Regions from separate parts of the Homo sapiens genome. Here region 1 is linked to region 2. The links come from fine-mapping of genetic effects on gene expression. A gene starts in region 2. The other region holds a variant in brackets. All regions are shown on one strand. Distances are between the middles of the regions. Region 1 overlaps LARP4B (La ribonucleoprotein 4B). Region 2 holds the start of LARP4B (La ribonucleoprotein 4B).

Region 1 (9,863 bases), 120 kb after region 2:
CCACGGTACGTACCTCGTGCCTGCCTTCCTGCACGACAGCCGCGAGGCTCTGGTGTGAACAGACGCTGCGCACTCCTGCACCTGCTCGTTTTTTAATCACATCTAATTTGGTGGGTTTTTATTTGCGTCTGTCTGTGTTGTGTTTTCTGTACAAAATACCTTTAATATTTGCTAATAATTTTCCACTAACTACTCTAGTTCTTTCTCAGACCACCATGTAGTCCTTTTATTTCAGTGTTGGTCAATAGAGGTTTCTTGAGTAGTAACAAGACCCCAGCTCCTGTTTCTCCATAGACTTTAGGATCATTTCAGCATTTCGCGCGTGTGTGTATGTTTGCGTGCGTGCGCGCGCATCGTGTGTCTGATGAAGAGACAGGAAGAGCAAGATGGTGGCCCCACCAGCCTCCAACCCCTGTGGGCCCAGCAGGCCTGAACCCCAGCGACTTCCTTTCTGCTGTTTTCCCTACTGGGTGAACTGTGGCCTCTCTTACTCTGAGTTGTGGCCTCTGTAGTTTGATCTTGGGGGAGCCTTTTCCTTGAATTTGGGAGTTTAATCCCTTACTGTCCCCTGGGCTGAGTCTAAAAAAGGATTTTTTATAGGTTAAAATTAATAATTTTAATAATAAATAATAATAATAATAAAAGAGGCCAGGTGCTGTGGCTCACGCCTGTAATCCCAGCACTTTGGGAGGCCGAGGTAGGCAGATCATGCGGTCAGGAGATCCAGACAGTCCTGAACAACATGGTGAAACCCTGTCTCTACTGAAAATACAAAAAATTAGCTGGGTTTGGTGGTGGGCACCTGTAGTCCCAGCTACTCAGGAGGCTGAGGCAGGAGAATCACTTGAACCCGGAAGGCAGAGGTTGCAGTGAGCTGAGATTGCACTGCTGCACTCCAGCCTGTGCGACAGAGTGAGACTGTGTCTCAAAAAAAAAAAAAAAAAAGTTATTAAGGGAAATATTTTACTTTTCTGTTATTTAGTCTTTATGCTTCCACTTACCTGAAAACCCTATTACACATTTCTTGAAGATTTTAGCTGTCTTCATCATTCTTAGATATTTCCAGTCCTTTGTAGTTTGAAATGTGCAAAACATTTTTATTTAAAGACTGTTTTTGGAGTTTGCCTTTCAGGGTTGAGTACCGTGTGAGGGTCCATTGCCCACCGTGGGCACCTGGGACACCCTTCTGTTGTCCTGAGCTGGCGGAGCCAGTGTGGGCAGCATCCGGACTCTTCCTAGGCTTCCGCATTGCCCAAGCAGGCATAGGGCTGGGTAGGGATGGTGTTGAGTCAGCACTCTTCTTCGTCATGCCTTTTCTAATTTTATCCATTACTACAGTAGCACAGAGGGAGTGTTCTGCTGCAGGGGAAACTAAATCATTAGATTTTATGAACTTTTTAAAAGTTAAAAACACTAGTGAAGATGGAAACTTAGTTACAGTTGAAAACTCTTTTATCTTAAGTGAACTTGATTTCCTGTCTTGTCCCTAGAGACACCATTTCACACAGGTAACCCAGGATTGTCTGTTTCCAGGAATTGCGAAAGCCCAGCTACGCAGAGATTTGTCAGAGAACGAGTAAAGAGCCTCCTTCTTCCCCATTGCAACCCCAAAAAGAACAAAAGCCAAACACTGTTGGTTGTGGGAAGGAGGAAAAGAAGCTGGCAGAGCCCGCAGAGAGATACCGGGAGCCCCCAGCCCTCAAGTCCACACCTGGAGCCCCCAGAGACCAGAGGCGGCCGGCGGGGGGCCGGCCCTCGCCCTCGGCCATGGGGAAGCGTCTCAGCCGAGAGCAGAGCACTCCCCCCAAGTCTCCTCAGTGAAAACCGTACGTCTGGGAGGGGTCGCAGAGCGCTGTGTTAACCACAAACGAGACACTCTCCCACTCAGTGCGAGGGCGAGCCGCTGGTTAGGAGCTTGCAGTGTCTGAGGCCTGTGGGATCCTCAAGTTGGTTTTCTTCTGTGAGTTGGATTCTCCCCCTCTTGAAAAAAAATCGATTTTTCAGGATTTAATTAATACAAACCTTATTTTAGGTTGGTGCTTAACTGGAGGTGATGCATAAGTCTGATTTTTTTTTCCAAGATAGAAAAAGCATTTATCCTAACAAATTGGTATTTTTTATTAAGCCTCCATGTGGCTCTGAATGCAAGCTATATATAGTGAGTTTTTCTAAATTAAGGGAACTCTGCTTTTTTTTTTTTTTTTTAAGTAACTGGTCTGTAAGTGCATATCTCTAGAACGTCCCCGCAGATGAATGAGGGCCAGTGGCCTTGGCAGAGGCAGGTGTGGCCTCGTAGAGGCAGTGCTGGCCGCGCCAGGGCATCAGTGCTGATGTGGGAGCTGTGCTTCCACCTAAGCCGTTGGTAGGGGACTGTGGCATTTAAGAATGTAGAGAGCGCATCCTTTTTGATCTCCTGGGCGGAGTGAACCTGCAGGGGCCACCCCAGAAACCTTGGTTCTGATGCACTGCAAGCAAGTAACCAGCTTCTCACTCCAGTTTCAAGTGGCTATTATGTAATATAAATTCAAAGCACATTGTGAATAGAACCTACATGAAAACATACACTTTGTTGCCCACTGACATGTTACCAGAAGTTGTACCATGATGTTGTTTTGACCCCTGTGAGCTGATGGCCCCGGCCCTGCTCTGTGCACATTTCTGTCCGTGTTCCCCAGCACTCTGGTTGGAGAGAGTCCACATCTTCAGCTCCGTGTGGACATCTCCCTGTACCTCTGCATCAGCACATGGATTTAAGAGTTATGTAATCGTGAGAGAATGGTGTTTGTGGTTTTTCCCCCTCTTTGGCTGGTGGAGGATAAAGTTCCTGCTCTTTTACCTCCAAGACGAGGGCCTCATTGATTCACTTCCAGAAGTGCTGCACTTCTGAAGAACAAGGATGCACTAAAGTTAGCAAGTTTATAATAAAGTTAAATATAAATTATTTTGTTTTAAAATGCCTCAAATTTTTCTTTATTCTAAGCAGCAAACATTAAAATAAGAATATTTCCTGCTAAATGTAACCATACACTTTATTCCACAAAATGTTATTTAACAAGACTGAGGGTTTTTTTTAAGAAAAAATTATTTCCATCCAATATTTAAAGACTTGAATTTTATTTAAACTTGAAAATGACTTTGCCTTAACTTTTGTATAAGACAGCTTAGAGTCCATGGAGCCCGGCCCTGGGTTGGCGTGAGTGGGTCAGAGTTACTCAGTTACTGCGTGGATCTCCTGTCGCTAGTTTTACTGAGTAAGCATACTGTAGTACAAGAGCTAGTAGTAGTTTTTGTAATATACCTTAAAGATCTTCAACAGTTGATCTTTTTTCAGAATGTTGGAAAATCCTGTAAATGCAAATAGTCAATACTGTATTAAATACGTGCACTTGGAGTGTGCTTCGCTTGTACAGTTGTAAATAATCAGAACATATGAAAAAGGTACCCTACAGAGAAAATTCTGATACAGATTATTGATATATTATAAATGTTGCTGTTGAGCGGGATGTAGATAAACTAAATGTTGTGGTTTGAATATTATTTTGATTTGTTGAGATTTTCTTTTTTCTCTTACATCGGTGTGTTGAACTGATTCTGCCTCTTTGCTGCAAAAGGGAATTGGAAAGTCTTATTAAAAGCCTCCAGATGTTTTCATACTCTTTTAAAATGTATGTAAATGCATACTAATCATATCTAATGTGAAAGAGTTTTAAAGTATATAGAGAGCAAAAACTGGCAGGATCGTAAGTGAAGGTGACTAGTAATCTAATT[T/A]AAATCACCTGCAGCTAAGCATGATTGACCCTGCCAGAGGAAAACATGCCTATTTGACCATTTCCTTTAAAGCAGTTGCCATTATTCAAATACAGAGAAATAGCCACAGGGCTAGTGTTTTTCAAATGCATTTTAAAGAACATGGGGATTTTTTTTTGTAGTTGTCAGTTCACTGACCAAAAAAAAAAAAAAAATCAGAAATAATTGATCTGTGAAACCCAAACTCTCAATACTCAGAAAGCTGGGAGGCAACCTCGAGGCCTGGGCCTACGAGCTGCATCTTCGCTACGGAAGGGCCAGGGCGCCATCAGCCATTCCCAAAACACAAGGCCTGCCCGTCCGCCAGTGAGTCCTTGGTTTTTAATAATGAGAAGTCCTTTCCCCCAAGGTGTGAGCATTGCAGCGCAGTGTGTGTGTGTGGTTAGAGCCAGCTTAGTCCTTCACTTTGTCGACCGAAGTGGGAGCTCAACAGCTGCATGAGGAGGGCAGCGCGTGCATTAGCCAGTCGCCACTGGAGGGCTCTGCTGCCCTCCGGTCAATACACTGTAGTTACTGCCTAGCCAGCAGCAGTCTTCTGCATCAAGAACTGAAACGTTGCTCGGAGGTGATTTTTATAGCATCCTTTTTAATTAAAGGTGAAATACAGATTGCTATATAATGTCTGAAAAAACCTGATACTACTTCAAGAGTTTCTGCTCAGAAGAAAATGAGAGTTATCATAATAGGAAGCTGTGGCGGTCCATGCCAACTGTGCTGTGTCACATACAGCGATGAGAGTGGCTTTCATACTTTTTTTTTTTTTAAGTTAACACCCTCCTTTACCCCCAGCAGTATCTCAGGTTATAGAATCAGAGATGCAGCAGTGACAAATGGCATTTTAACTTGTAAAATCGTGTGATGATGCTTATCATTTTGAAATAGAAGAATAAAAACCTGGTCCCGTTTCACCAGACATGAATTTCAAGTGGAGTCGTCGTTCTCTGAGAGTGAGTGTCTTGACATTTTCACCCAGGCCCTCCTGTCATCACATCACCGGCTGTCACTGGCGGGTGGCCGTAAACGTCCTGCGTTGCTATATTAGGATCTCTGCAGTTCAGGCTTCAAAACCAGTTCAGTGTATCCGGGCGACGGGTAGTGGTGGTGCATGCCTGTCTGTGTGCCCCGCTGGCGAGCTGTAGTTGCGGCTTGCGTGCCTCGCGGCCCACTACAGGGCTGCAGACAATCGAGGCGAGGGCGCTGGCCGCCAGCAGCTCACAGCGCGGGGGTCATGTGGTCGCTCCTCGAGGGTTTCGTTTTTGTTCTGCTTCATTAAGACTGGAATCAAGCTTACATGTAAACTATTGGTAATTTAAGTTTCCTTTTGTGTCATTCAGTGTAAAACTGTCTAATTTGAAAAAAAATGTAGGTTATGAAAATAAAGATTTAGGCACTGTTCAATTTTTCTTTTGATTTTTTTTAAATTAAAATTTCTTCAATAATGCATCTTTTCTAAACATAGTTTTTTGTCTGTTCCCATAAGTGCATGAGAAAGAAACACGGGCCTCATATATGATTGGATCCTAAAGCCTTCTCACCTACGTGGGGGCTGGCTGTGGCACACGGGGCTCACCCTTTGTGTTTTAGTGGTTCAGAGTGAGCATTAACATCAGATGCTCATGCGGAGACAGCCATTACTGTGACTGCCAAGATGTACTGCAAAAATACATGTTCCTGTATCAGGACTTTGATTTTGTTAAAATGGCACTCTCTCCAAAGCTGTGTCCATGAAGCTGTTTGGAGCTAACGTTGGGTCTTCATGGTGATGGACTCATCCTTAGGCAGCAGTGATGTCTGCACTAGGAAGAGGCTGGCGGGAGGCGGGGCCCCTCCTGTGCCAGGCACCGAGTGGATGGGGGACTGATTAACATGTTGCTGCCTTCCTCCTCTGTGCATTGCCTTTTCATGTCGTCTTCCCATTTTTACTCTTTTTCTGATGGAATTAATATTCTTGATCTGTTAAGGCTATTAATCCTTTGTCATATATGTTACAAATATTTTCTTTCAATCTACCATTTGTCTTAACTCTTTATTTAGAATAGTATCTTTTACGGTGTTTAATTATTGTGTAGTAAAATCTATCAATCTTCTCCTTTGTTGAGTGTCTTGGACTTGCTTAAGAAGCCTTTCCCTACTCCAGGGTCATAAAGTTAATAGTGTGTGTGTATGTGTGCGTGTGTGTGTGTGTGTGCGTGCACACGCACACACACACACACACGCTTTTAATCCAGCTGGGCCTAATCGTGTGTGTGGTGTGCGTGCTTAGGCAGGAACCCAGTTTTACTTTATGCCATGTGGAAAGTTTCTTTTTCCAGTATCACCAGTGAGTTCACTGTCTCTCCACTGGTCTGCAGTGCTGCTTCTGTTACTTGCAGACTTCCCACGTGTGCATGGATCTCCACCTGGGGTCTCTAGGGTCTCTATTCTACACTGCCTATTTCCCTTTCTGTCCTAACACCATAGCATTTAACTCACCCGTCATCCTGTGTTGCTGAGAATTTCCTTCATAGAACTCATCAAAGTATGATTAACTGTGCTCCCTGAGGGCAGGAATTATGCCATCTGGATCACCAGCCTCTCCCTTGTCCTTAGCACGCCATCTGCAAATTAGCAGATACTCGGTAAATGTGTATTAACTCGAAGTATATTTTGTGTCTTCTCTGTGCACAGCACTGCCCTGGGAAGAACTAGGATGAGGTATTGACTTGCTGTTGCCACATAACAAACCCTGCCAGAACTCCCTGGATGGAAGTGACCACCGTGTATCTGTGGATTGTCTGCAGGGCTCTGCTGGGGTCAGCAGGTCCCACAAGAGAGCCAGGGCTCGGTCTCCTCATGGCTGTCAGAGGTTTACGTATTCCGCCTCCACCCACCAAAGTCTGAAGTTGTTGTATTCCATTCCTTGCTATATCCACATCTTTTAATAATGCTAAAATCCCGTGTTTCTCTAAAGCATTGGATTGAACCAACTGAAGAAGGACCACGTGTGTTGCTGGGCCTGCTTGGGCACAAGCCGTTTCCGATCCAAGTCAACTGCTGGTCTGCTTAGACGAAGGTGTGTGGGTGTCTCCACCACGGAGAGGAGGGACAGCAGGTGAGACCATAGGCCAGGAAGGAAGGGCACAGCCTAAGCGTGCAGTGGCTTAGCCAGAGACCCTCGTGCACCAGCCTTCAGGTGCTTATGGAACTTATGTCAGCCCAGGCCATATCCAAGTGTGTGATGTCTCGGAGCATATATGCCAGGCCAGCCGGAGAGGCTTAGCCCTGCCCTGGTGGAGCTGGAGGGCCGCAGGGCCGCCCGGTGGGGTCAGGAGGTTGTGAAGAGGATCCTGATACAGGCTGGGCCTCCCTGCAGGCGTGAGCCCCGGAGCACGGGGTGAGCAGCTCCACCCAGAGGGGCTTGCAGGACCAAGCTGGGACAGCAACCACCAGGCCCTGGGGCAGATCAGTGAGCGTCCAGGAGATGCAGATGCAGAAGACAGCCAAATTCATTCACCTCTGCGTGGGCCTGTGAGGGCCCACAGAGATGCATTTTCATTCACGACCAGGATTTCCTCGGCCGGAGCAGCCGCTTTTCCCAGCCGAAGCTCACTGTGTTTACTACATAGGATGTGAGTGTATAGAAAGACTCTCTCTAACGTTAGCTACGCGTGCAGAAATGTGGGGCGCTTACAAGTGTGGGCAGCCGCAGCCTGTTCCTCACCCCTGTCCTAACGGGACATACTCCACGCATGCACATTTAGGATCACCGTGTCTTCTCGTTGGACTGATCTGTCATTAGGACCCTGGACCCAAGTAATTGTCTTTGCTCTGAAGTTTTGACAGTAACAAAGGCATTCCAGCTCTTTCTTTTTCACTCCTGTCGGTGTAACGTGCCGTTTTTCATCCTTTGACTTTTAGCCCGCCTGTGCCCTGTCTGAAGGGAGTTGTCTGTGGACAGCACGGAGTGGTGGGTGTTTGTAATCCACTCTGCCAGCCTCAGTCTTCTAACTGTTGCGTATGGACCAATTACATCTGCCCTTTCTCTTCCCTGCTGCTCTGTTTCTTTTTTCTCTTTGCCTTCCTGGAGATTGTAATTTGCCAATTCTCAGTCCTCTCGTGCTCTCAGCTCCCAGTTGACCTTCTCCTGCTGCTGCGCCTCCCGTTTCCTGAGGCCAGTGGGGGCAGTGCCCTCTTCAGTGTCTGCCCTTTGCTACTGGGTAGTTTCTTCCAGGCCCACACCTTTCTACTTCGTGCAATGCCGCACTTTCCATGCCAGCTGAAATCCATCAGCCTGGAAGCACAGAGGCCGCAGCCTGGGCCCGGGGGCAGGTGCAATGTACTGTCCCCTGCAGAGGAAGGCAGAGCTCCATGCTGCTGTCGGGCCGGGCCACCGTGGTGGCAGCGTCCTTGGCAGGCAGCAGGAGTGTGCGGCAGCTGGGAGTGTTGCAGCCAGACATCTTAACCTCGGGGTGGGGGTGGGGAGACGAGTTTCTTTTTGTGTGGCTTTGGGAATAAGGAAACAAGTTGCCAGTAAATTGCACATCTTACTGGCTAGATTTAGGATCCAAACGCCGTCACGGGGAAGGGGCTTTCAGGTCAGTGAGGTCCATCCTGGGCTCAGGAGTGGGGCCACCTCCCCCAAGGTGCATGGTGACTGGAGAGAGGGGTCCCTGAACAAAATTGGGGCCATTAAGAAAGAAGGGGTAACTAATACGTCCACTCAGTACATTCGAGCTCCTCAGCCCCAGCCTGCTCAGCCTCCAGCCCATGTCTCACTGTGTCCTTGGCGTGGCCACCTGCAGTCAGTCCACATTTCAGATGGGACCACCCACCCTCCGGCCTGGATCCTCCTGCTCCTCACCGGAACCCCATCTCCACGGGCAGCCCCGACGCAGACAGGCAAGCCCAAATCCTGGGCCAGTCTTGGTTCTTCCCCAGATCCTTCCGAGAGTCCAGCCCGGCCATCTCGTCGCCAGTCTCCCTGCCCCGTTCTCCACCTAGCCCGAGGGTTCTTTTGTGGTAGTGAGCGCGCCCTGTTCCCTTGCTTTAAACGCTCCAATGGTTTCCTGCAGGAAGAAATAAGGTTTAGACGCGCGCCTGCAAGTCACTCCCCAACCCACCTGCAACTTCATCCCTGACCCCACACTCTCTGCCCATGCTGCCTGGGACCTGCTGGCCCCTTCCCGTGGAATTTGTTTCTCCCTTCCCAGAGATGCCTGGCGCCCTCTCCGACAGCCGCCTGTCCCCGGCTGCTTCTGCAGCACTGAGCACCGTTTGTAGTCGTCTAATTGGTCTACTTCTGGCGTGAGCCCCTTGGGCCTGGCACCCGTGAATGCTCTTCCCCTGGGTACCTGCAGCACCCCCTGGGCAGGGGACGCTTCCGGGTCCATTCCTCGCCCGGTGTCCAGACGCTGTGGACAGGTGCCAGAGGCAGCTCCGCAGAGGGCGCTCCGCAGAGGCCGCCAGGCCGCGTCCACAGCTCAGCCAGTGCAGGTTCAAGTCCCGGCTTGCGCGCCCCTCCCATCCCTGCGTGGGGCGGCCTCACCACGCACACCTGCCGCCGTCTGTGTCGGCCTCTCCCTCCATCCCTGCTTGCGCCCTGGATCCCCGTCCGCCTTTTTCCGCGCAGCAGCCCGGGGGTCCTTTGCATCCCCGCTCAAAAGCAGGGAGGCACCCACGCACCTCGCTCAGAGCAGAGACCAGAATCCAGGCGGCTGGCCGGAGGTTGGGCCCCGCGCCCTCGGCGTCCCCTGCACCCTCCAGGCCCCCCACGCGCCCTCGACCTCCAGCCGCCCCTCCGAGGCTCTGGAGCTGCCTCATAGGAAGTAAACCTAGAGGGAAAGGTCAGGAGGGATGGGAAGAGCCCCCGGCCACCTGGGAGACGGGGGAGGGCGGGAAAGAAACCATCAACATAGAGCAAGCCCAGGGTGGAGCTCACGTGGGTTCGTGGTGTTGACACTGCAAGCTGGAGAGGCGGGGAGAGAGGAGCCCGGGAGAGGAGAGGCAGGGTTCCTCTTTTAGCCAGAGGAGCCCAAAGTGACAGGAGGACGTGGCCGCAGCCAGGGTTCAGGGGCTCC
Region 2 (9,863 bases):
GCCTCCTTCTTCCCACCTGTGTCCTTCTCGTGGATGGTTTGTCTCTGGCCCCGGCTTAGTCATCATTTTCTGGTTCCTTCTTAAGTTGGCTTGGACCCCGCTTGTGAGCCACCCAAGCACTCTACACAGCCTCACCTCACCCTCCATCCCTCATCCTCACCCTCCATCCCTCGTTACCTGCTTCTCATCTGTGATGCTCCCCTGATCTCTGCAACATTAGCAGTCCCTGAGACCGCGTAGGTACTCAGTGAATATTTGTTTAATCAATGGGCAAAGGAATAGTCCTAAATCATCAAAAATGAATTTTTGAGCAATGCGGCTACACATTGGAGAAGTAGTGTTTATTTTTTCACAGAAAATGCTTCGGGATAAAATAAAAGAATGTTCACCTGTAATCCCAGCATTTTTGGGAGGCGGAGGCAGGTAGATTACTTGAGGTCAGGAGTTCGAGACCAGCCTGACCAACATGGTGAAACCCTGACTCTACTAAAAACAAAAAACAAACAAAAAAAAAAAACAACAAAAATTAGCTGGGCATCATGGTGCATCCCTGTAATCCCAGCTACTCGGGAGGCTGAGGCAGGAGAATCACTTGAACTCGGTAGGCGCAGGTTGCAGTGAGCCAAGATTGTGCCACTGCACTCCAGCCTGGGAGACAGAGGGAGACTCAAAAAAAAAAAAAAAAAAAAGAAAAGAAAAGAAAAAAGAAAAAGAAAAGAATGTTCTCAGACACCACTTGAAATGTAGGCCTCTGCTAGAGAAATACACATGCTGTATTTGTTTGGTAGAGACTTTGTCCCAAGATCACTGCCCTCGCTGCCTCTGCCCTTGAGGCCTGACCATTTCTTTGGGATGACAGTAGTGTCAGCTGAAAATTGTATGATGTGATGTAGCTCAACAGAGCTACAAACAAGTGCTAATAATAGGGCCCAGAAGGAAAATCAACTGTCTAAAACACTTCAGTGGTTGACATTTGGGCTGTAACTTGAAAAATAAGCGAGATTCCGCCAGAAGGAGACATCCAAGTACAGGAAGCACATTTGAGGCCAGGGGACTCACATCCATTAGGACCTAAGTGCTCAGGCTCCAAAAGAATGCCGCCCTCGACTTCCAGAGCAGCGCAGCGTCTGGAGCTGGGGCACCTCTCCATTTCTTTGTATAGGACTGTCCACACTATGAACTGTGGACTTACCTGTCAACTGTGCAGTCTGGAGTGTAAAGTCTGTATTTTATTCAAGTGTAGACTCATCAACTCCCTCAATACCTTCAAAAATGCTCGGAAAGTGAGTGTGATTGGAAGGTAAGGATGTCTTAGGATAAGGCAGGAAAGGAAACACAGGGGGCTGGGCTGAAGACAGGCTGGGACTAGCGTGTGAAGGGTCTTCTTTCCACAGGAGAACTTGGACTTTATCCTCCTGGGCAGGCAACGGGGAGCCGGTGAAGGTCGCATTGCAGGAGGATGGTGATGAAGCTTTTTAAGGAAACATGTGCTGGCACTGTGAGTAATGGACTGTAGCAGAGACCAACCGCGACGCCACTGAATCAAACCAGGTGAGCAGTAACAACGGCAAAACCACTGGGGGGACGGGGAGAAGGAAAGAGTTTTTAGGTAGGATTGACAGAATTTGTAACCACTTGACATGGGAAATGAGGGAGTGTATCTGATCATGGTTTGAGAAATTTATACTAAAGTTTTAAAAAACTGATCTTGTCTAAGGAGAGATGCCATGAAAATGTATTTCATGTTATAACCTCACATCTCAAGGTGAAAATGGATGTTTCTTCTGAGACACAGGTTTGAAAAAAAGAAGATCATGAGGGAACAAAAAGCCCAGTTCTGATTGTTGGAAAGGATTACACAATACGAAGAGAAAGAAGAGATGGAATTCTTTTAGTTTTAGTTTTTTTCTTTTTCTTTTTTTGAGACAGGGTCTCGCTCTGTCACCCAGGCTGGAATGCGGTGGCACAATCACAGCTCACTGCAGCCTCAACCTCAAGCGATCCTCCCACCTCAGCCTCCTGAGTAGCTGGAACCACAGCCATGCACCACATGCCCGGCTACTTTTGTATAATTTTTTAAAGAAATGGGGCTTTGACATATTGCCCAGACTGGTCTTGAACTCTTGGCCTTGGGCGATCTGCCTGCCTTGGCCTCCTAAAGTGCTGGGATTACAGGCATGAGCCACTGAACCCATCCCATTACTTTCTTTTGTAATAGGTAAGACATAGATGTCTGCTGGAATGTAGACATAGACAAAAAAGATTGAAGTTTAACCTACCAGCCGGGAACGGTGGCTCACGCCTGTAATCCCAGCACTTAGGGAGGCTGAGGCAGGCGGATCACGAGGTCAGGAGATCAAGACCATTCTGGCTAACACGGTGAAACCCCATCTCTACTAAAAATACAAAAAATTAGCTGGGCGTGGTGGCATGCGGCTGTAGTCTCAGCTACTCCGGAGGCTGAGGCAGGAGAATCACTTGAACCCGGGAGACTGAGGTTGCAGTGAGCCGAGATTATGCCACGGCACTCCAGCCGGGGTGACAGAGGGAGAGTCAGTCTCAAAAAAAAAAAAAAGTTTAACCTACCAATTTTGGGGCAGAATTCCTAGACTTATACCACATCAATGGCCCTAGCAATGTTATGAACCAAGAGTAAGCTCCTGTAGGTTATCCGTGGAGGTAAAGGAACCAGGCACCTAAGCAAGGACACTATGGCCTACTGGTCAGGGCAGGTTGTCCAGGTAAGCAAGTTTTCTGAAATATGTACATGCTTTTAATATTAAAGGAAATGTGTCTTATGTCGTTAAATGTTCTTTAAAAACATTACTATGAATATAATTATTTAACTTGCAAATTCCCTTAAAGCTAGGATGCAACAAGGTTTCACAAAGAAGGCACCCAACCTTGATGTCAACAGTCTACCCACTATGGGAAGCCGGAGAGGCTTTCTTCCAAAATGCAGAATTGTCAGCATTTGAACGCTGAGTACGAAAAATTATAAGCACAGGCTGGGTACACCGGCTCCCATCTCTAATCCCAGATTTTGGGGGCCCGAGACAGCACTCTGAGCTCAGAGTGCAGACCTGCATAGAGCAAGACCCTGTATCAAAAAACAAAATTAAAAAAGCAGTTGTAAGCACAGGTACACGGTTAACCATGAATATGGTATCCCTGAAAAGCCGTTTTAATGGGGGAACAAACCTAAAATTTGGAATAATTGATAATATGTGTATATGTAGCCAATCAGAGCAGAAACCAGAAAATCAGGCAGCAAGCTTAAGGGAAACGCAACATACTTTGTTTGGTTTCCTTTTCTTCCATAAACTGATCAGGGGTAGGTAGAGTATGCTGCTATAGTTCGGAGTCGTCACCATCCTCACGGAAACGGCAGGAGTGTGAACACCTCCCTGAGCTACCAAGAGCATCTGACTCGTTGCAACGTGGGCCCGAACCCAGCGCCTCTAGGAAACGTGGGGCCGGGGCCTTTTGGTCCCGGGTGTGGGTTGGGGGTTTGGGGAAGGGCCGGGGCCTTGATCCCAGGTGTGGGGTTGGGGATTCCGGGGCTGAGCCGAGGCCTTGGTTAGGGGTGTGGGGCGGGGGTTCGGGGCAGTGCCGGGGCCTTGGTCCCGGGTGTGGGGTTGGGACTTCGGGGCCGGGACCTTCGTCTCAGGTGTGGGGCGGGAGTTCGGGACAGGGCTGGGGCCTGGGTCCCTGGTGGGGCGTTCGGGGCAGTGCCGGGGCCTTGGTCCCGGGTGTGGGGTGGGAGTTTGGGGCAGGGCCGGGGCCTGGGTCCCGGGTGGGGCGTTCGGGGCAGGGCCGGGGCCTTGGTCCCGGGTGTGGGGTGGGAGTTTGGGGCAGGGCCGGGGCCTGGGTCCCCGGTGGGGCCTTCGGGGCAGGGCCGGGGCCTTGGTCCCGGGTGTGGGGTGGGAGTTCTGGGCAGGGCCGGGGCCTTGGTCCCGGGTGTGGGGTGGGAGTTCTGGGCAGGGCCGGGGCCTTGGTCCCGGGGGTGGGGTGAGGGGTTCGGGGCAGGGCCGGGGCCTTGGTCCCGGGTGTGGGGTGGGAGTTCGGGGCAGGGCCGGGGCCTGGGTCCCGGGTGTGGGGTGAGGTGTTCCGGGCAGGGCCGGGACCTTGATCCCAGCTGTGGGGTGGGAGTTCGGGGAAGGGCCAGGGCGTGTCCTGGGTGGCCAGGGTCGGGGCCTGGGTCCTGGGGGTGGGATGAGGGGTTCGGGGCAGGGCCGGGGCCTTGGTCCAGGGTCTGGGGACAGGCTAGGGCCGGGGTCGCCATCCGTCCTGGGCGGCGGGCAGGGGTCTTTAAGGGGCGCACGCGGTGGCGGAGGACCAGGGCCCAGCCCTCCGGAAGTCAGGGCCCACACGGCCCCCCAGCGTCAGGCGCTCCGGTCGCGCCGGGGACGGCGGGCGGGGCGGGCGGGGCGGGCGGGGCGGACGTGCGGCGTGCGCGGGGCGGGGCGATGTGCGCGCACGCGCCAATCGCAAGGCCGCGAGCAGGGTGTACGCGCGGAGAGGCCAAGAAGGCGGCGGGGCGGGCCGAGCGTCGGGTGCGCCCAATCAGCGCGCCGCAACACCATGACGTGAGGCTCTCCCGGGGCTGAGCGCCAGTCCGCGGGACCGGCGGGTGAGTGCGCGAGTTCAGGGCGCGAGGCGCGGGTCCGCGCGGGGGCGGGACTTCCGCAGGGCCCCGGAAGTGGGAGCTGTGTGTTCTCATGCGAACGGGAAGGAGCGTTGGGGATCTGGAGTCCCGGGGTTGAGACATTTTCGGGCCCGAAAGGGGAAGAATCCGCCGCCGCCGCCGCCGCCAGCTCGCGCCCGCCCTCTCCCCTACCTCCGGCCCGGCCCGGCCCGGCCGCGCCGCCTCTCCCTGCCGTCTCTCTCCTCGCCGTCCCCGCGTGTGGCGCGGCCGCCGGGCCCCGGGGTTGAGGCGAGGAGCCCGCGGGCGGCCGGTCGGGCGGGGCGGCGGCGCTGACAGGTGAGGCACCCTGGGCCGCGGCGGGCCGTCCCTCCCGGCCCAGCTCGGACCCGCGCCGCGCCGCCTGTCACTGCGCCGCCATCTTCCCGGAGGACGCGGCCGCGGCGGGCAGGGCCGGGCCTGGGCCGGGGCCGGGGCCGGGGCAGGGGAAGGCCGGGGCCGGGTTGAGGAGGACCGGGGCTAGGGCACGGGAAGGGCCAGGGCTGAGGAGGACCGGGGTCAGGGCCAGGAAAAAGCCGGGGCTGAGGAGGACCGGGGCCGGGGCAGGGGAAAACTGGGGCTGAGGATGGCCGAGGCCGGGGCAGGGGAAGGCCGGGGCCGGGGCTTAGGAGGACCCGTTGAGGCGAGGCGGGAGTCGACGGAGCTGGGTGCCCGGAAGACCGGGCCGGGGTCAGGGTCGGGAGGCCGGGGTTGGGCGAAGGCCGGCGAGGACGGGGGTCGGGCAGGGCCTGGGCGGGGCCGGGGTCGCGGGCCGCGAGCGCCCCCAGGCCGGGCGGGCGCCGGCACCCGCAGTGCGGCGCCAGCCTTGCCACTCGCTCCTCGGTCCCGCCGGAGCCCGGATAGGCGGCCGTGCGGGTGCGGGGCGGGACGGGTCATCAGGGCATCGCATTCCTTTAGAACCAGGAAGTTGGGATCCTGTTGCTCGGTGTGTGTTTGGAACGCTCCTGTTTTCCTGTTGATAGACTTGAGCAGAGGTGGATCTGAAGGAGTTAAAAAAATAAAGTCAGATGTGAAGATTGCCTGTGTTGGTCTTGGGGCTGGGATACATGGGCGGCAGAGAAGCCATCGGAAAGCTGCTGCACCTGCCTCTCAGGGTGCGCTTGGGAACGTGAAGAGTCTTTCCGTTTCAGTGCCGTTGTGCGTCGAAACTTCATGCGAATGTAATTTTGCTTTTCCCCTTATTTTTACGTAAAACGTTCTTAAAACTTGGCTGAGATGAAACTTGAGAAACCTAGCTGTAGAAAACTACCTCCTATCTGGCTTTCGTTTGAGATTCTCTAAGTGGATGCCCAATAACTTGTCTTAATAGTAAATTGGAAGTTTGAAGTTTTGGATAACTGAGAAAACAGGAAGGTTTTCCTTGACAGGGCAGTGGAGTTTGTAAGTATAAACAGTATGCGTGAGGCCTTTTTCTAGAGATGAGAGCAACTCCAAGGTGAACATTGAAGGGGACAGACAAGTTATTTTCCCTTTCGAAAGTTTTTTTCTCTTAGTTTCAGTTGTTTGAATATTTAAATGCACTTGAAATAGGTGCTGAGTTGTAGTTTGTGAAGACCACAGTGGGGAAGAGTGGTGTCCTCTTTTTTCTTGGTGGTCAGGTGGTGTGTGCAGTGTGCAATTTCCATACTTCCCCAACCTGCCTGGCGCCCCTCATTACAGTCAGGGTAATTTACAGAAGTTGAAATCGTTGTGGCTTTTCAGTTTTTTCTCCTTGTATTTAATATGCTGAAAGGCAGTTTTGTAATCAAACCATATAAGAAATAGCTTAATTGAGGTTTGCTAAGTGAAATGCGTTCCGAAAGGCATCAGATTAACAAGCTTATTATTTAATCATAAATTTAATTTGTGTACTTATCTTTGAAACTTGCATTGGTTAGAAATAAATTTTATCCGGTATTTTGAAAAGTTAATGTGAGTTGAGTTGACTTATTTATATGAAACAAAGGCATGGCTTATTCATTAGAAGTTACCCTCGTGTTGCCTACATTTTCTCAATTGTAACAGGGGGATGATGATAATCTCATTTTCTTAGGACTGTTGTAACACAAACATGGAAATGTTGTCTGGTTTTGCTATTTTCACTATTACTGATTTTTTTCTTCCCCCCCCGAGTTGGAGTCTTGTTCTGTCACCCAGGATGGAGTGCAGTGACACGATCTCAACTCACTACAACCTCCACCTCCTAGGTCTTCAAGTTATTCTCCTGCCTCAGCCCCCCGAGTAGCTGGGATTTACAGGCACATGCCACCACACCTGGCTAATTTTTGTATTTTTAGTAGAGACGGGGTTTCAGCATGTTGCCCAGGCTGGTCTCGAACTCCTGGCCTCAAGTGATCCACCTGCCTTGGCCTCTCAAAGTGTTGGGATTACAGGAGTGAGCCACTGCGCCCAGCTTACTGAATTTTTAAAATATTCTACCTTGTAGCTGTCAATCTATTAGCAGAAAGTTTTGTTTTTGTTTTTGTTTTTTTGTTTTGTTTTTTTTGGCTTGTTTACACATGTATCTGGGCAGAGAAAACAGCTTCTGAGCACAGAATGCATATTTGGAGAAAGCAGTTCCACTCTTTTTGAGTAGGAACCAGACAGAAAAAAAGATAACATGGGTACTATTCTGTAGAAGAGTAGCTGAAATTAAGTGGCAGCAAATTCAGGGAGAAATGTAATTTGGTTTAATGTTCGGGAAGATTGCCATTTTTAAAAGTGAGATTTAAAGAATTTATTGAATTTAATGCAATTTCCATAAGTAAGCACAAGTTTTGACAAGTATATATTTAAGGTGTTTTTATGAAGCAGTCTTCACATTATCTTAAAATGTAGTTCTAAAATACGTGCAGGCTGGGTGAGGTGGCTCATTCCTGTAATCCCAGCACTTTGGGAGGCCTAGGTGAGTTTAGGAGCCCAGGAGTTCACCAGCCTGGGCAACATAGAGAGACCTCATCTCTACCAAAAAATCAAAAAATTAGCCAGGCATGGTGGCTCACACCTGTAGTCCAGCTGTTGGAGAAGCTGAAGTGGGAAGATCGCTTGAGCTTGGGAGGTTGAGGCTGCAGTGAGCCATGATCCTGCCACTGCACTCCATCCTGGACAACAGTGAGACCTTGTCTCCCCCCACCCCCAAAACATGCAAATTGGGACATCAAATTGTTAATGGTGTTTACAATGAACAGTGCCTTCAGGTAGCTGCAGCTACTCTACATAGATTTGCAAGTTTTTGTAGTGATAGGCTATGGTAGATGTTACCAGCCAAGGAGTGGCTGACAAACTCCTTTCACTGTTATTTCATTGTCATGTTAAAATTCATATTTTCCGTCAAAATAGTGATAGCTAGGATTATAATCTAGGTCTTCTAATCTTAGTAACGTGTTGTCTATGTTAGGGCCTCTCAAAGTTGTAAAAAAGCTGTATAGATGTGTTACCATCAATCGATTTCATTTGTTTTTATCCTAGTGTTAAAGGTACAAGTTTTTTTTTTTTTTTCTTTCCTGAGGCGGACTTTCACTCTTGTCGCCCAAGCTGGAGTGCAATGGTGCGTTCTTGGCTCACTGCATCCTCCGCCTCTCGGGTTCAGGTGATTCTCCTGCCTCAGCCTCCCGAGTAGCTGGGATTACAGGTGCCCTCCACCACACCTGGCTAATTTTTTTTTTTTTTGTATTTTTAGTAGAGTTGGGATTTCACCATGTTGGCCAGGCTGGTCTTGAACTCCTGACCGCAGGTGATTCGCCCGCCTCGGCCTCCCAAAGTGCTGGGATTGCAGGCGTGAGCCACGGCGTACCTGGCCAAAGGTACAAGTTTTAAATATGCTTTTATCATGCATACAGTACTCTTATAGATTCTGTCAGATTTAGGGATATTCTTTTCAGATTGATAAATTGCACAAAAATCTTGGAGTATATTCTTGTAATTTCTTCTACAAAATTCTCAAAACAACCTTTTTCCAATGGGGAGAAGACATGAACACTGAAGTCATGTTTTTGGAAAATACCTTGTTAAAAACAGACACTGCTGTAAGGGTTTCCTTGCTTATGCTCTTTTGTAGAACTTTATTGATGTGAAGAGTTCTCCTTTTTCTGTAAAAGCTTATTTTAGAGTACGAAGTAAATGAGGCACTCAGAGAGTTAACCTCATCAGGTCTGAGTTTAGTTCAGTTTAAACTTTTTGCTCTTATGCTGGTTGATATCTTTGTAACTACTCTACTTCTAGAGTTATTTTGATTGGAAAATGAATTCCTTTTTTAGAACATGGAATTGTAAGGTAGAAAACTGCTAGGTTCTCAAAAGAAGGGAGATAAATTCCAACTTGAAAGTTTTTTCCCCTAACGTTCTAATGCTTTGTTTTTCCTGTGTGTAAATGCCTTCCTTAGGAACAAGGAAAATTATTAACTCAGCTGTGTTTCCTTCCCTTCTCTTTCTCACTGCCCCCCCGCCACCCCATACCTTAATACCTTTTGTCCCTTCAATGCCTTTATAAACTCTGTCTTCTCATAGTTTTTCTGGTGAAGCTGTCATGGCTCCTATTTCAACCATAAAGGATTTGCAGTTCAGTGATGCTACTGGTTTTACATCTTCTTTCCCATCAACCCCATTGCCCTGGTTAGGAGACCTAGACCATGGAGTACATTGCAATATTGAAAGTATTTCATGTTTAACACAATTTTTTTTTTTTTTTTTGAGACCGAGTCTCGTTCTGTTGCCCAGGCTGGAGCGCACTGGCACGATCACGGCTCACTGCAACCTCTGCCTCCAGGGTTTAAGCGATTCCCCTGCCTCAGCCTCCTGAGTAGCTGGGACTACATACAGGTGCGTGCCACCACGCCCGGCTAATTTTTGTACTTTAGTACAAATTGGGTTTCACTGTGTTGGCCAGGCTGGTCTTGAACTTCTGACCTCAAGTGACCCATCTGCCTTGGCCTCCCAGAGTGCTGGGATTACAGGCGTGAGCCACTGCGCCCGGCCATGTTTAACACAAATTTGAAAGCGTACTGCTTAGTTTTTTAGGGGGAGTATGATAATCATAGAGATGAGACTTGATCTTTGCTGAAAGTGTTCTTTATGAAGTCTGATGTGCATAAATTTGCCCAATAAAATGCTCTTTTATTTACACAAATCATTTTAGTCGCACTGTAGCCAGAGTGTGGCATAGCCTGATGGCTGGCCTCTTT

Evidence for each region.
Region 1: its variant is fine-mapped to the expression of LARP4B in whole blood (TOPMed, PIP above 0.99).

Annotation. Positions count from the first base shown.
Region 1 is chr10:804,884-814,746 of GRCh38, reverse strand. It overlaps LARP4B (La ribonucleoprotein 4B), which reads left to right. Exons shown (of 18, transcript NM_015155.3): 17 at 1-5; 18 at 1,534-5,250. The coding sequence ends at 1,821. Among named protein-coding and RNA genes, the nearest start is that of DIP2C, 120 kb to the right of the region's middle. RefSeq lists enhancers at 1-34, 35-535, 4,452-4,952, 4,953-5,453 and a silencer at 5,190-5,395. The variant T/A (reference allele first, on the strand shown) is at 3,769.
Region 2 is chr10:926,549-936,411 of GRCh38, reverse strand. It overlaps LARP4B (La ribonucleoprotein 4B), which reads left to right and starts at 4,707. Exons shown (of 18, transcript NM_015155.3): 1 at 4,707-4,984. It overlaps LOC124902363 (keratinocyte proline-rich protein-like), which reads right to left and starts at 4,421. Exons shown (of 2, transcript XM_047426111.1): 1 at 3,297-4,421; 2 at 323-1,576. The coding sequence starts at 4,285. The coding sequence ends at 3,581. LARP4B-DT (LARP4B divergent transcript) reads right to left here and starts at 3,386. Exons shown (of 3, transcript NR_120629.1): 1 at 3,297-3,386. RefSeq lists silencers at 4,127-4,216, 4,297-5,006, 5,077-5,186, 5,217-5,296, 5,387-5,516.